Linked DNA regions of Homo sapiens: regions 2, 3 and 4 are each reported to be linked to region 1. The links are microRNA targets in miRTarBase. Many come from high-throughput screens and were not tested one by one. Region 1 holds a microRNA gene; each other region holds the end of a gene's coding sequence.
What was found. Region 1 holds the annotated microRNA hsa-miR-301a-3p (CAGUGCAAUAGUAUUGUCAAAGC, at 1,846-1,868, shown strand). A microRNA usually pairs through its seed, bases 2 to 8, with sites in the 3' UTR of a target mRNA and lowers its output. Matches are read on the target gene's strand: a 7mer-m8 pairs with bases 2 to 8, a 7mer-A1 pairs with bases 2 to 7 and ends in A, and an 8mer does both.

Region 2: the mRNA of AKIRIN2 is a reported target of hsa-miR-301a-3p. Seed matches in the 3' UTR shown: 7mer-A1 at 2,133-2,139.
Region 3: the mRNA of ARHGEF26 is a reported target of hsa-miR-301a-3p. Seed matches in the 3' UTR shown: 8mer at 1,670-1,677.
Region 4: the mRNA of SFTPA1 is a reported target of hsa-miR-301a-3p. The part of its 3' UTR that is shown has no 7-base or 8-base seed match.

The regions. Positions count from the first base shown.
Region 1 is chr17:59,150,017-59,153,016 of GRCh38, reverse strand. It overlaps MIR301A (microRNA 301a), which reads left to right and starts at 1,796; the gene lies at 1,796-1,881. All of the region lies in intron 1 of SKA2 (spindle and kinetochore associated complex subunit 2), which reads left to right. RefSeq lists a silencer at 2,838-2,917.
Region 2 is chr6:87,673,087-87,676,324 of GRCh38, forward strand. It overlaps AKIRIN2 (akirin 2), which reads right to left. Exons shown (of 5, transcript NM_018064.4): 4 at 2,774-2,845; 5 at 1,774-2,521. The coding sequence ends at 2,511. It also overlaps a transcript of ORC3 not described here. Among named protein-coding and RNA genes, the nearest start is that of AKIRIN2, 28 kb to the right of the region's middle.
Region 3 is chr3:154,255,274-154,258,464 of GRCh38, reverse strand. It overlaps ARHGEF26 (Rho guanine nucleotide exchange factor 26), which reads right to left. Exons shown (of 15, transcript NM_015595.4): 15 at 640-3,134. The coding sequence ends at 2,992. Among named protein-coding and RNA genes, the nearest start is that of DHX36, 68 kb to the left of the region's middle.
Region 4 is chr10:79,613,619-79,616,829 of GRCh38, forward strand. SFTPA1 (surfactant protein A1) reads left to right here. Exons shown (of 6, transcript NM_005411.5): 6 at 119-1,825. The coding sequence ends at 495. Among named protein-coding and RNA genes, the nearest start is that of SFTPA1, 4.3 kb to the left of the region's middle.

The DNA of each region.
Region 1 (3,000 bases):
TAGAAAATTATAAGGTAGCCAGACATTTAAACTTTTAGGTATTGTTTGAATGATGGGGTAGTATTTAAATTCTTTTTGAAGACAGGAAAAAAAGAAATGAGGTTTTTTTCCTTTCTTACATCCTTGCAAGTAAATTAGTGGTAGCTTTTTTTTTTTTCCTTTCAGGTTATTAGTTTGTTTCCATAATTATTAGGGTTTAGAAATGAATTTTTATCATGGCTCTAATTATTACTGCTTTGTGTTGACTAGATAATAAAAGACAGTGCATCTCATCTTCAGATTTACCATGTGCTTCTAGAAAAAAATGTTATACTTGTGGACCAGTTTATTTTATAAGATTTTAAGAGTAAATGATTCCTGTGCTATCTTCTGATTTTTGGTTTTACATCAGTTAAATAAAGGATTTGTCAAGGTAAAAGGAAATGCATAATATTTAATTTGAAAAGAAAGTGTTTATCCTAATTTTGTTAATACCTTAAATTTTTTAAATATTTTTCTTGTTTGTAATAACTTCCAATTCAGAAAGTTAAACACTTATCTTTTAAACAGTTGTCTTTAAAACCTGAAACTTGGCTACCAGCGTTAAATATTCTAATATTTTAGTTATGTGGCCCAGGATTTGACACCAAGACACTTATATTTCAGCTGTCCTTTGTATGAGCCCATTTCCTTAGTAGGCTCAATCCGACTAAGTAGTTGAATTGGACCGTTTAAAGGGAGGTTGGTGAAAATAATGAAAATATATTTTTGCATCAATCAACATTACTAATGGGGGAATAAGCTTATTGTAGGGCAATCTTTGTTCTCTGACTTTTTCCCCTTCACTTAATGATGGGGTGGTATTTGTTTAGCTTTGTTCTTTCGTGGTACTACTAGTGACTGTACACAAAAGGTAATGCAGTGTGATACTATGATACTATTTCTGTTTCTGGGTTTACATCTGACTTCTGATTGGGTTCTTATCCGTTAAAAAAGTTAAAATGTCAATTAGCTTGGAACTAAGGAAACTTGTTACTTAAATCTCAGTCCCACCTCCCCCCATCATTATTTTCTCTTTGACATTTCTAAGTTTGAAGGAAATGGAGATGCTTTCTGCCTCTATTTAAGATTTCAGGAGTTAACTGAAATTTTAAAATCCCCTTGGATAGTATTCAGTTAGATAGGGTTAATGTTCTGTTTAGAGCACATTGATTCCCTTCTGTTGTTATGACAGCCCTTAGTAAACTCAAGATAAAAAGCTGTAAGATGGTAAGTGCTTTTGTGTTTTCTTTGTTTAGTGGTTTAGATTCCAGAGTGATAGATTGAGTATGTAGAGATTGAGAAACTTATTATTTTACTTTTCATTTGTTTTCTTTGATACTTTTATTCAAAGGGCTTGTTTTACATGGCGTTTAATCAGTAAATTGCCTTGAAGAAGGAGCTAACCAACATCTCTGCAGAGAACAAAAATATTTTTCACAACTTTGCCTTAGTAGTAATTATAACTGGTTTTGTTAATACCAATCCTAAAGTATTAACAATACCCATTCTAATTACTATTAAGGCTTAGGGCATATTTACAAAATTCCTTTCTACATCTATGCATGTTTCTGTTCGAATGTTAATTTGTATATTAGTCATCAATAAGCAACATCACTTTGATATTTAAGTCTTATCCTTTTTTAAAAAAACATTGATATAAATGTTTTTTGGTTTTGGATGTTTTTCTGTCCAAAATGGCAACCCTACTTTAAATTCGTTTCTCACTGAAGCTTCAACCGATGCAAGATGCTTTTGTGTTCCTTTCCTACTTATTACTGCTAACGAATGCTCTGACTTTATTGCACTACTGTACTTTACAGCTAGCAGTGCAATAGTATTGTCAAAGCATCTGAAAGCAGGATGCACGCCAGAATTTTGATTCTTACCTTACATCTTTCTTCGGTATCAGTAAATAATTTACCACAACCTTTGTTGCTGAGAACTATAATGTTGTTACTAACAGTATATCTTTTAGAAAGTCATAATTTGAAAAAAAAAAACCTTTTAACTAATTAAAAACAATATTTTACTGCATTATGAAACACGTCTGGAGAATATTTTTTATATCTAAGTTGTTATGGTTTGTCTAAATGAGTAATACTTTATAATTTGTTGCTTTCTGTTACATATTTGGATAGGTTCTGTCAAACTTTAGGTTTTATTTGAGTTTTATGATGAATTGGTAGTGATGGAAACAATTTCTGCTGTATATTTTTCCTGCAGTTACTTGCCCCAAGTCATTTTTTTTTCTCCAGAGACAGAGTCTTTCTCTGTTGCCCAGGCTGGAGTGCAGTGGCCCAGTTACACCTCACTGCAGCCTTGTACTCCCGGGCTTAGATAATCCTCCCTCCTCAGCCTCCTAAGTAGCTGGGACCACAGGCGTGTCCTACCATGCCTGGCTAATATTTTCTTGAAATTTTTTGTGGAGACAGGGTCTCACTGTGTTGCCGAGGTTGGTCTTGAACTCCTGGGCTCAAACAGTCCTCTTGCCTTGGCCTCCCAGAGTGCTGGGATTATAGGTGTGAGCCACTGTGCCTAGTCCTCCAAATCTTAATTGGTGTTAATTTTGTGTATTGTCTAGGAAATGGTTGAATTTAAAACCTAAGAGTGTTTGTTTTACAGTTTATTCTTATGAGATACAATAGTGTGGATTCATCACTTTTAAAAAATATGAATTTTATTGAGATACAATTATATAAAATAAAAGTAAGTAAGCTATTTGTTAAGCAAAGCCGAAGTCTTGCTGTGTTGCCCAGCTGGAGGGCAGCGACTATTCACAGAGGCAATCATAATGCAGCACAGCCTAGAACTCCTGGCTTCAAGCAATCCTCCCACTTCAGCCTCCTGAGTAGCTTGGACTACAGGGGTGTGGCATGCCCAGTGAACTGACGAGTTTTGACAAATGTATACAGTCATGTAACCACCACCACAGCCAGGATATAGAACATTTCTGTTACTTTACAAAAAGCTCCTTTGTGG
Region 2 (3,238 bases), not on the chromosome of region 1:
AGCCCATAAGCTAGGACTTTTGCATAAGTGATAATGCAGAAATTTGGCTGTGGAGCAAAAAAAAAAAATTTTTTTTTTTTTTTTTTTTTTTTGAGACAGAGTCTCACTCTGTCACCCAGACTGGAGTGCAGTGGCATGATCTCAGCTCACTGCAACCTCTGCCTCCTGAGTTCAAGCGATTCTCGTGCTTCAGCCTCCCAAGTAGCTGGGACTACAGGCTATCCTGCTAACCAGTGGTTCTTAGCTGGGAACTGTTTTGTCCCTCAGGGACATTTGGCAATGTCTGCAAACACTTTGGTTATCACAATTGTGGGAGGGGGTTTAACTGGCCTCTAGTGGTAGAGGCCAGAGATGTGGCTAAATATCCTATAATGCACAGCAATAGCCACCACGACAAAGAATGATCTGGCCCAAACTGCCAGTAGTGCTGAAGTTGAGAATCTCTGTTCTAGACCATTAAAAGGGGGTAGAATTGGCCAGGCGCAGTGGCTCACGCCTGTAATCACAGCACTTTGGGAGGCTGAGGCAGGCAGATCATGAGGTCAAGAGATCGAGACCATCCTGGCCAACATGGTGAAACCCCGTCTCTACTAAAAATACAAAAATTAGCTGGGCGTGGTGGTGCATGCCGGTAGTCCCAGCTACTCGGGAGGCTGAGGCAGGAGAATCACTTGAACCCGGGAGGCGGAGGTTACAGTGAGCCGAGATGGCAGCACTGCACTCCAGCCTGGTGACAGAGCAAGACTCCATCTCAAAAAAAAAAAGTAGGGGGGAAGGGCATAGAATCATGCACCTTATTGCTACCCTGTGCTATACCAATGTTTCTCAACCACTAATTGGCATATAAATTGCCTGGGCACCTTGTGAAACCACTTTCTAGGCTTGTTTTAAACAGAGAATTGGTGAAATGTAATTACCAAAGCTAAAAATAAAAGAGGTCTGGCTGGGCGCAGTGGCTCACGCCAGCATTTTGGAAGGCCGAGGTGGGCAGATCACCTGAGGTCAGGAGTTCGAGACCAGCCTGGCCAAAATGGTGAAACCCTGTCTCTACTAAAAATACAAAAAATTAGCCGGGTGTGGTGGCACATTCCTGTAATGCCAGCAACTCAGGAGGCTGAGGCAGGAGAATCGCTTGAACCTGGGAGGCAGAGATTGCAGTGAGCCGAGATCGTGCCACTGCACTCCAGCTTGGGCAACAAGAGCAAAACTCTATCTCAAAAAAAAAAAAAAAAAAAAAAATTCCTTTTTCTTCTAACTTGGTCAGTTATAAATGTGTATTTAAGATTGTCTTAAATTTTGGAAATATGCTACTAGAATTCAACAAATGAATTCACTGAAGCATGTTTTTGCTTACTTCATTATAAGAAAGCTATGTCTAGAAACCATGTATGGAAAGGGAGTCAAATTTGCTGAATCATGCTTTTGCATATCAAGTTCTTAAAAGAAAAAACTGGATCCTACTGATATCTGAGGTAATTCTATAGCAATTAAAATACCTGTAACATTCTATCAGGCAGTAAGTTACAGAAGAAGGAATTTATATATATATATATATATTTTTTTTTTTTTAGTAGAGATGGGGTTTCACTGTGTTAGCCAGGATAGTCTCGATCTCCTGACCTCGTGATCCTCCCGCCTCGGCCTCCCAAAGTGCTGGGATTACAGGCATGAGCCACCGCGCCCAGCAGAAGAAGGCATTTAGAATCAGAACTCAGTGTTTTGAAACAGCACTCAAATCTTAGAAAATTAACTTCACTGATTCCTGGAAAATGCTTACGTTTTAAAACACCAACTTTATTCAAATACTAACCCCATCTGTACATTAAGAAACAAGCAAAATAGAAGTAAATGTTTTATTCTTCCAACTAAATTCCAGTACTACAAGGGCAGTAAAACAATGATACACTGGAAAAAAAAAAATGCAGCAATAAACATTTGTTAAAAAGACTGATAGAATAAATAAAACTACAAAAAAAAAAAAAATCATACAAACCCATTCTGAAACCCCAAGAAGTCCTGGAATACAGAAATGCCCTCCTCCTTCACTATTTCACAGGAAGCACTGCAGGCTATTTGCTTAATATTGTCCTGGGATTACATTCTAAAATTAGTAACTGGTTACAGCTCGGTTGTAGTGCACAATTAAAATCACACTAACTTCATCTGAAGTGTCATTCTACAGTTTTATTTACACAACCAGTGAAGGGCATGTTCTAGAATACCAGCTTTAATCCTTTTCAAACATTAATATAAGAAGCCAAATTGTAATGATACAGCAAAATGAGGCCACTGGTATTAATACAGGTAGCAAAGGTCCACATCCAGGTGGTACTGACATCAGGGAAATTTCCAAAACCAGTTGCTGCTGCCTAAGAGTGGTTGCCACTGACGAAAGCTTGAAATAACCTGTATTCACAGAAGGGGTATTGGCATTGCTGCATGTCATAATTGGGACCTCTTGCAACAACTCAACAAGGAACAAGGCAGCCCACAAATGCAGGATACGTGATTCATGAAACATCTAAAGGGTGAGAAAAAGAAAATTAGTGCAAAATACAGGTCAAAATCCAAACGAATACTAGATCTTGATTCCCAATTTTGCCCCTAGGTATTTAAGTAACCAAAAGACTTGCAAAGTTATGCTGCCTATTTCCTCCATACATTCTCAGTAATTTTGTTGAATTCTCTTTTTGAGTATGAAAATAATTATAATGTCTTCTCCTTAAAAGACAGTCTTATTTTCAGTTTATAACTTCAAAGGTGAAATACTTACAGCTAGCAGGCTGTTCTCCATATCGTCGCATTATTTGATCATGCGTAAACTTCACAAACGCATCATATTGTTCTATAAATAAAGGTACTTGTCAATTACATTTGTAAAATGCCTTATTAGAGCCAGATAAACTGAAAACACAAAATATACAGTAAAACAATTCTAAGTTGACAAAATCACTTACATAACCTCAGTAGTACTAATAGTGTATCAAATAAAAACAGCATGCAACTTATTAGTCAGGAAACCTAGGTTTTAGTCCAATCACATGACCTGACATAAAGGCTAGGTGAGATTTATTTATTTCCTAACAAAAAGGCTGGGACCGGGTGCGGTGGCTCACGCCTGTAATCCAAGCACTCTGGGAGGCCGAGGCGGGCGGATCACAAGGTCAGAAGATCGAGACCATCCTGGCTAACACGGTGAAACCCCATCTCTACTAAAAATACAAAAAAATTAGCTGGG
Region 3 (3,191 bases), not on the chromosome of region 1:
AGCAAACAAGGACCTCAGCTCAGCAACAGCAAGGACGTGAATCCTGCCAATAACAGAAATGAGCTTGAAAGAAGACACCAAGCTCCAGGTAAGAAAGCAGCCAGCCAACACTTAGAGCCTTGTGAAACTCTAAGCAGAGAACCCACCCATGCTATTCTAGACTTCTGACTACAGAACTGTGAGATATTAAATGGGTATTGTTTTATGCCACTAAGTGTGTGGCAATTTGTTATGCAGCAAAAAAAAAACTAATGTCAAGGAAGTCATTTTTTTACTTCTACCAAGGTTCACAAGGTGGTAAAATTTCACAAACACAAGGGTTCAGATACGAGGTGACCAAATGAATGGTAGAATATGCTCCAGGGGATAAGGGAACTGTGCACTATGTAAGATAAGCGATTTAGTCCTGCAGGTTTATGCCAACTACGAGAAGAAACAGCATGACCCATCTCCTAAAAATGTTCTAGTCTTCTAGGGCAGCTGATGCCAGCATGTACCCAAAGAGAAAAGATTAGTCCTCTGAAATGTTAGCTACAGATACCTTTTAAATAGAGCTCTGATTTGGCCAAAAACCCAGGAAACTGTATACTTAACTGAAAACAACCTAGAGTAAAATAAATCACACCAGCACAAAAGGACAAGTATCTACAAAATCTTTATAAATTCACATATTTTTCTGAAAGTGTACAAGCAGTCTCAATTTACTGGGACAAAAATGAACATTTTTGTTCTTTAGTAATGAAGTCAATGTACAATTCAGAGCAGGTGTCCATAGAAACAACTAGGTTTGAAAAAACTTAAGACAATTCACAGTTGAAATCAAACAAACACTGTGAATGTGTTAAATACTTGCCATATAACAACACTTTAACATTGATCTTGCTAAATAAGGCTATGATTCATAAGATGCATGTATTTCCAAAGCTGTTTAACATTCTTATAAATTAATTCACAGGATTCAAATAGTTGCTTTTTAGCTTCAACTGGGTATTAGCAAAAATAATACAAAATGATCCCCGTGCAAGCACAAATTTACCTTCCTTCCTAAATAAAACATGACAGATTATATTACAACTTGATAGCCTCTCTTTTAAAAAGTCTGTGACATTATTAAAGAGGTGACGGAATGCTTGTTTTGCAAACCCCAACACATCTTTCACTGTGGACCATTGCTATTACTTCATTAACACAGTTGCTCAGATCTCAAGGTACTCACGGTCTGAAATATATTTTACAATTAGAAGGTATGCACAGGTCAAAAAGAGCAATCCAAGGGTTAGAAGTCCCCAGTGCCCCACACTGGCTCATTGCCGAGGTGACAGGGTGCAGGCTGTGTGAGCCAGGCACACTTACCCCTCAACTGGGCTTCTGTAGCTTTACAATTTGGATAACTAGTTAGCGGACAGTAGTTGGGACATGTCACATACAGATTTGAGTCCTCCAATAATGTACACTTTGCCAGGTTTTATCCCTTTGTTAAAGCAAATAGAACAGAGAGGGAATATAGCTGCCAGTAAAAATCATTTCCCCCCTCTTAATCTCCCATCCTTCATCTCCATGAAACCGACTATTAAGATAACCTTTCTCTCTCTGTGCACTAGTGGAAAAAGTAAAGTTCTATAGAAACTCACAGTTAAGAGGGACTCTGAATACAGCAAGTTAAGGCTTTTAGTGCAAATAGAATGAATTCCCACTAAGGTCAAAAGGTTTCAATTGGGTACCATGCTGACTTCTTGGTATCTTTTAAGGCCTAATTTTCCCTTCCTTGAGATTACTGTAGTGTGTTCCAGCTAATTTCTATTTGGAAACGAGTTGGAACAGCTGAAAACTAGGTATTATTGAAGGCAAAGCAGCCTCACGTCAGTTTTTTATCAGCTCATTTGGGAAGGTTTTTTTTTTTTTTTTTTTTTTTTTTTAATTAATTAGAAAGTAGGCTGGGCACGGTGGCTCATGCCTATAATCCCAGCACTTGGGGAGGCCGAGGATCTCCTCTCTGGTGGATCACTTGAGGGCAGGAGTTAAGAGACCATCCTGGCCAACATGATGAAACCCTGTCTCTACTAAAAATACAAAAAGTAGCTGGGCGTGGTGGCATACTCTTACAATCCCAGCTACTTGGGAGGCTGAGGCAGGAGAATCACTTGAACCTAGGAAGCAGAGGTTGCAGTGGGCCAAGATCACACCACTATACTCTAGCCTGGGCGACAGAGGTGGGGAAAAAAGTAGGACCCCTGTCCTATATTCAGGTTTTTCTCACATATATGAACCCATCTAAATTCTACGTTGTTAAAGGTAGCTTAGGTTAATTAGTCTATACTTATTTAAGAACAATATGGGGTGAGATGGATTTTTTTTTAAAAATCCTAAAGTAAGGCTTTCTACTTTCCTTCTAATGAGGAAAAAGGTGACAAAAATTCAAGTGTCAATGTCCCCTTCCTGGGAAGAGGTTTAGAAAAACAACAGCTCACCTTCTGAACTCTACCAGTTCCTTTTGAAGTTAACGAAGCATTAAAATCAGATGTAAAAAAAGAAAAAAAAAGGCAGGGAAATATTTACAAAACTGGACATTCTTTACAGATATACAATCTTGCTAATACTGGGAGAACCATACAAGGATGTATAAAGAGAGACAGTCACCTTAGTAATGCAAGGATAGAGAAAACCAGGATATAATATGTGTTTTTTATTGCCAGAACATGGTGAAACTAGGAGGAGCAGAGATGACCTGATCCCTGAAGTGAACTGCTCAGCTATTCTGTGTACCTCAGGAGGTCTGCAAGTGTGTGGTTAGGTAAAAACTGAGCTGTGCAAACTCACTGTATCCAAGCTCTTCTCATGAGAGAGCAGAACAACCTGGCAAGCTTAAAGGCAAGTGTTTTCGTTCTTTTAATTAAATAGGCTGTGACAAAATTAACAATAAAACTAGCCCAGAACCAACCAGCCCGGTAAGTGTCGTGCAAATCTTGCAGTAACAAAAGACCATCTGAGAGACTACACGTTGGTCTCCAGTCCTAGCAAGCGTCCCATTCTCTCCACATTCTTATCAATTGTAGCTTGACATGTTATCTCCTTGGCACATTCCATAGGAAACCAGCCTCTTTCTCCATCTCGTAGTCGTTCCCCCTCATACCAGCCTGTGAAAAAGAACAGAGTCCACACCAAACAACAAGTATTTGGAGTGTGCCAGGCTC
Region 4 (3,211 bases), not on the chromosome of region 1:
CACAGAGAGAGGCAGAGATGGAGAGACTGGGGAGAATCTGGTAGCAGAGACCCCAGGTGAGGGAGGTGGCTTAGAGACAAAGTGGTCAGTGGCCTGACCCGGACTCCTCTGCTCTCAGCCCTCAGTCTGCAGGGCTCCATAATGACAGTAGGAGAGAAGGTCTTCTCCAGCAATGGGCAGTCCATCACTTTTGATGCCATTCAGGAGGCATGTGCCAGAGCAGGCGGCCGCATTGCTGTCCCAAGGAATCCAGAGGAAAATGAGGCCATTGCAAGCTTCGTGAAGAAGTACAACACATATGCCTATGTAGGCCTGACTGAGGGTCCCAGCCCTGGAGACTTCCGCTACTCAGACGGGACCCCTGTAAACTACACCAACTGGTACCGAGGGGAGCCCGCAGGTCGGGGAAAAGAGCAGTGTGTGGAGATGTACACAGATGGGCAGTGGAATGACAGGAACTGCCTGTACTCCCGACTGACCATCTGTGAGTTCTGAGAGGCATTTAGGCCATGGGACAGGGAGGACGCTCTCTGGCCTTCGGCCTCCATCCTGAGGCTCCACTTGGTCTGTGAGATGCTAGAACTCCCTTTCAACAGAATTCACTTGTGGCTATTGGGACTGGAGGCACCCTTAGCCACTTCATTCCTCTGATGGGCCCTGACTCTTCCCCATAATCACTGACCAGCCTTGACACTCCCCTTGCAAACTCTCCCAGCACTGCACCCCAGGCAGCCACTCTTAGCCTTGGCCTTCGACATGAGATGGAGCCCTCCTTATTCCCCATCTGGTCCAGTTCCTTCACTTACAGATGGCAGCAGTGAGGTCTTGGGGTAGAAGGACCCTCCAAAGTCACACAAAGTGCCTGCCTCCTGGTCCCCTCAGCTCTCTCTCTGCAACCCAGTGCCATCAGGATGAGCAATCCTGGCCAAGCATAATGACAGAGAGAGGCAGACTTCGGGGAAGCCCTGACTGTGCAGAGCTAAGGACACAGTGGAGATTCTCTGGCACTCTGAGGTCTCTGTGGCAGGCCTGGTCAGGCTCTCCATGAGGTTAGAAGGCCAGGTAGTGTTCCAGCAGGGTGGTGGCCAAGCCAACCCCATGATTGATGTGTACGATTCACTCCTTTGAGTCTTTGAATGGCAACTCAGCCCCCTGACCTGAAGACAGCCAGCCTAGGCCTCTAGGGTGACCTAGAGCCGCCTTCAGATGTGACCCGAGTAACTTTCAACTGATGAACAAATCTGCACCCTACTTCAGATTTCAGTGGGCATTCACACCACCCCCCACACCACTGGCTCTGCTTTCTCCTTTCATTAATCCATTCACCCAGATATTTCATTAAAATTATCACGTGCCAGGTCTTAGGATATGTCGTGGGGTGGGCAAGGTAATCAGTGACAGTTGAAGATTTTTTTTTCCCAGAGCTTATGTCTTCATCTGTGAAATGGGAATAAGATACTTGTTGCTGTCACAGTTATTACCATCCCCCCAGCTACCAAAATTACTACCAGAACTGTTACTATACACAGAGGCTATTGACTGAGCACCTATCATTTGCCAAGAACCTTGACAAGCACTTCTAATACAGCATATTATGTACTATTCAATCTTTACACAATGTCACGGGACCAGTATTGTTTCCTCATTTTTTATAAGGACACTGAAGCTTGGAGGAGTTAAATGTTTTGAGTATTATTCCAGAGAGCAAGTGGCAGAGGCTGGATCCAAACCCATCTTCCTGGACCTGAAGCTTATGCTTCCAGCCACCCCACTCCTGAGCTGAATAAAGATGATTTAAGCTTAATAAATCGTGAATGTGTTCACATGAGTTTCCATAGCTTTGGTTCCAAGAAATATCACATTTCTGTATTTTTGTAAATCAAATGAACTCTGACTCTGAGCCCCCACTTGCCTGAAGATTGGAAAATTCAATCTCAGGATGTGCTTTCTTTGTTTGGTAGGAGGAGCCACCTCCTCTCCTCACTATGATGCTGCAGAGGGATGGGGAGCTACAGCCACCATTTGGAAGAACATACGGGCTTCCTGAGTCCACATGGTCCATTTGTGGGTGGGAATACCATGTCTTCTGTCCCCTACTCAGCCACCTGAATGATTTCTGCAGCCCAGCAGTGATGGTGGCACTCAGGGCTCAGTCCCAGGCCTTAGTGAGCCATCCTAGTCTCAGGTCTGCATGGAATGGGACCACACTCTCATGACCCAGGGCTGCGCAGGAATGAGACAATGTCTCCAATTGCTTGAGGAGGCAGCTACATATGTGTCCCACCTCCCACTTCTCCCCCTATAACACCTGTGAACACTCTTTCTCAGTGCATTTATTGCTTTTCTTGGGCGGAAGGAAGCTCAGAAAACCAATGAGAATAAGAGGAAATTTTTCTCAGTCTTTTATGAGTGATAATTTTTAATCTGATCACCATTCCATATGTGCTTAGGACCCAGCACAGAAATTATTGAGCCTTCTTCAAAATTAAGAAAAAAAGCAAGTAGAAGCATGTACAGATGTATCTCGACTTATGATGGGGTGACATCCCAATAATCACATTGCAGGATGAGAATATATTAAGTGGAAAATGCATTTAATACACCTAACCTACCAAACATCATAGCTGAGCCTGGAGTAACTTAAACATGCCCAGAAAACTTATGTTAGCCTGCAGTTGGGCAAAATCATCTAACACAAGGCTGATTTTATAATGAGGTGTTGACTGTCTCATGAAATTTATGGAATGCTGGACTGAAACTGAATGAATAATTCAGTTATATGTGTACTTGAAGTATGGCTTCTACTGGATTTGCATTGCTTTTAAGTCATTGCAAAGTGGAAAAATTGTAAGTCGGACAGTTGTAAATCCAGGACAGTCTACATTCCCAATTATATAGATAAATACTTTAAGCCTCTGAAAATTTGCATCTATTGAGATAATCATGTGGTTTTTGTCTTTAGTTCTGTTTATGTGATGAATCACTTTTATTGATTTGCGTATGTGGAACCAAGCTTGCATCCTAGGGATGAAGTTTACTTGATTGTGGTGGATAAGCTTTTTGATGTGTCACTTGATTCGGTTTGCCAGTATTTTGTTAAGGATTTTTGCATCAATGTTCATCAAGAATATTGGCCTGAAGTTTTCTTTTTTGTTGTATCTGCCAGGTTTTGGTATCAAAATGATGCTAGCCTTACAGAATGAGTTAAGGA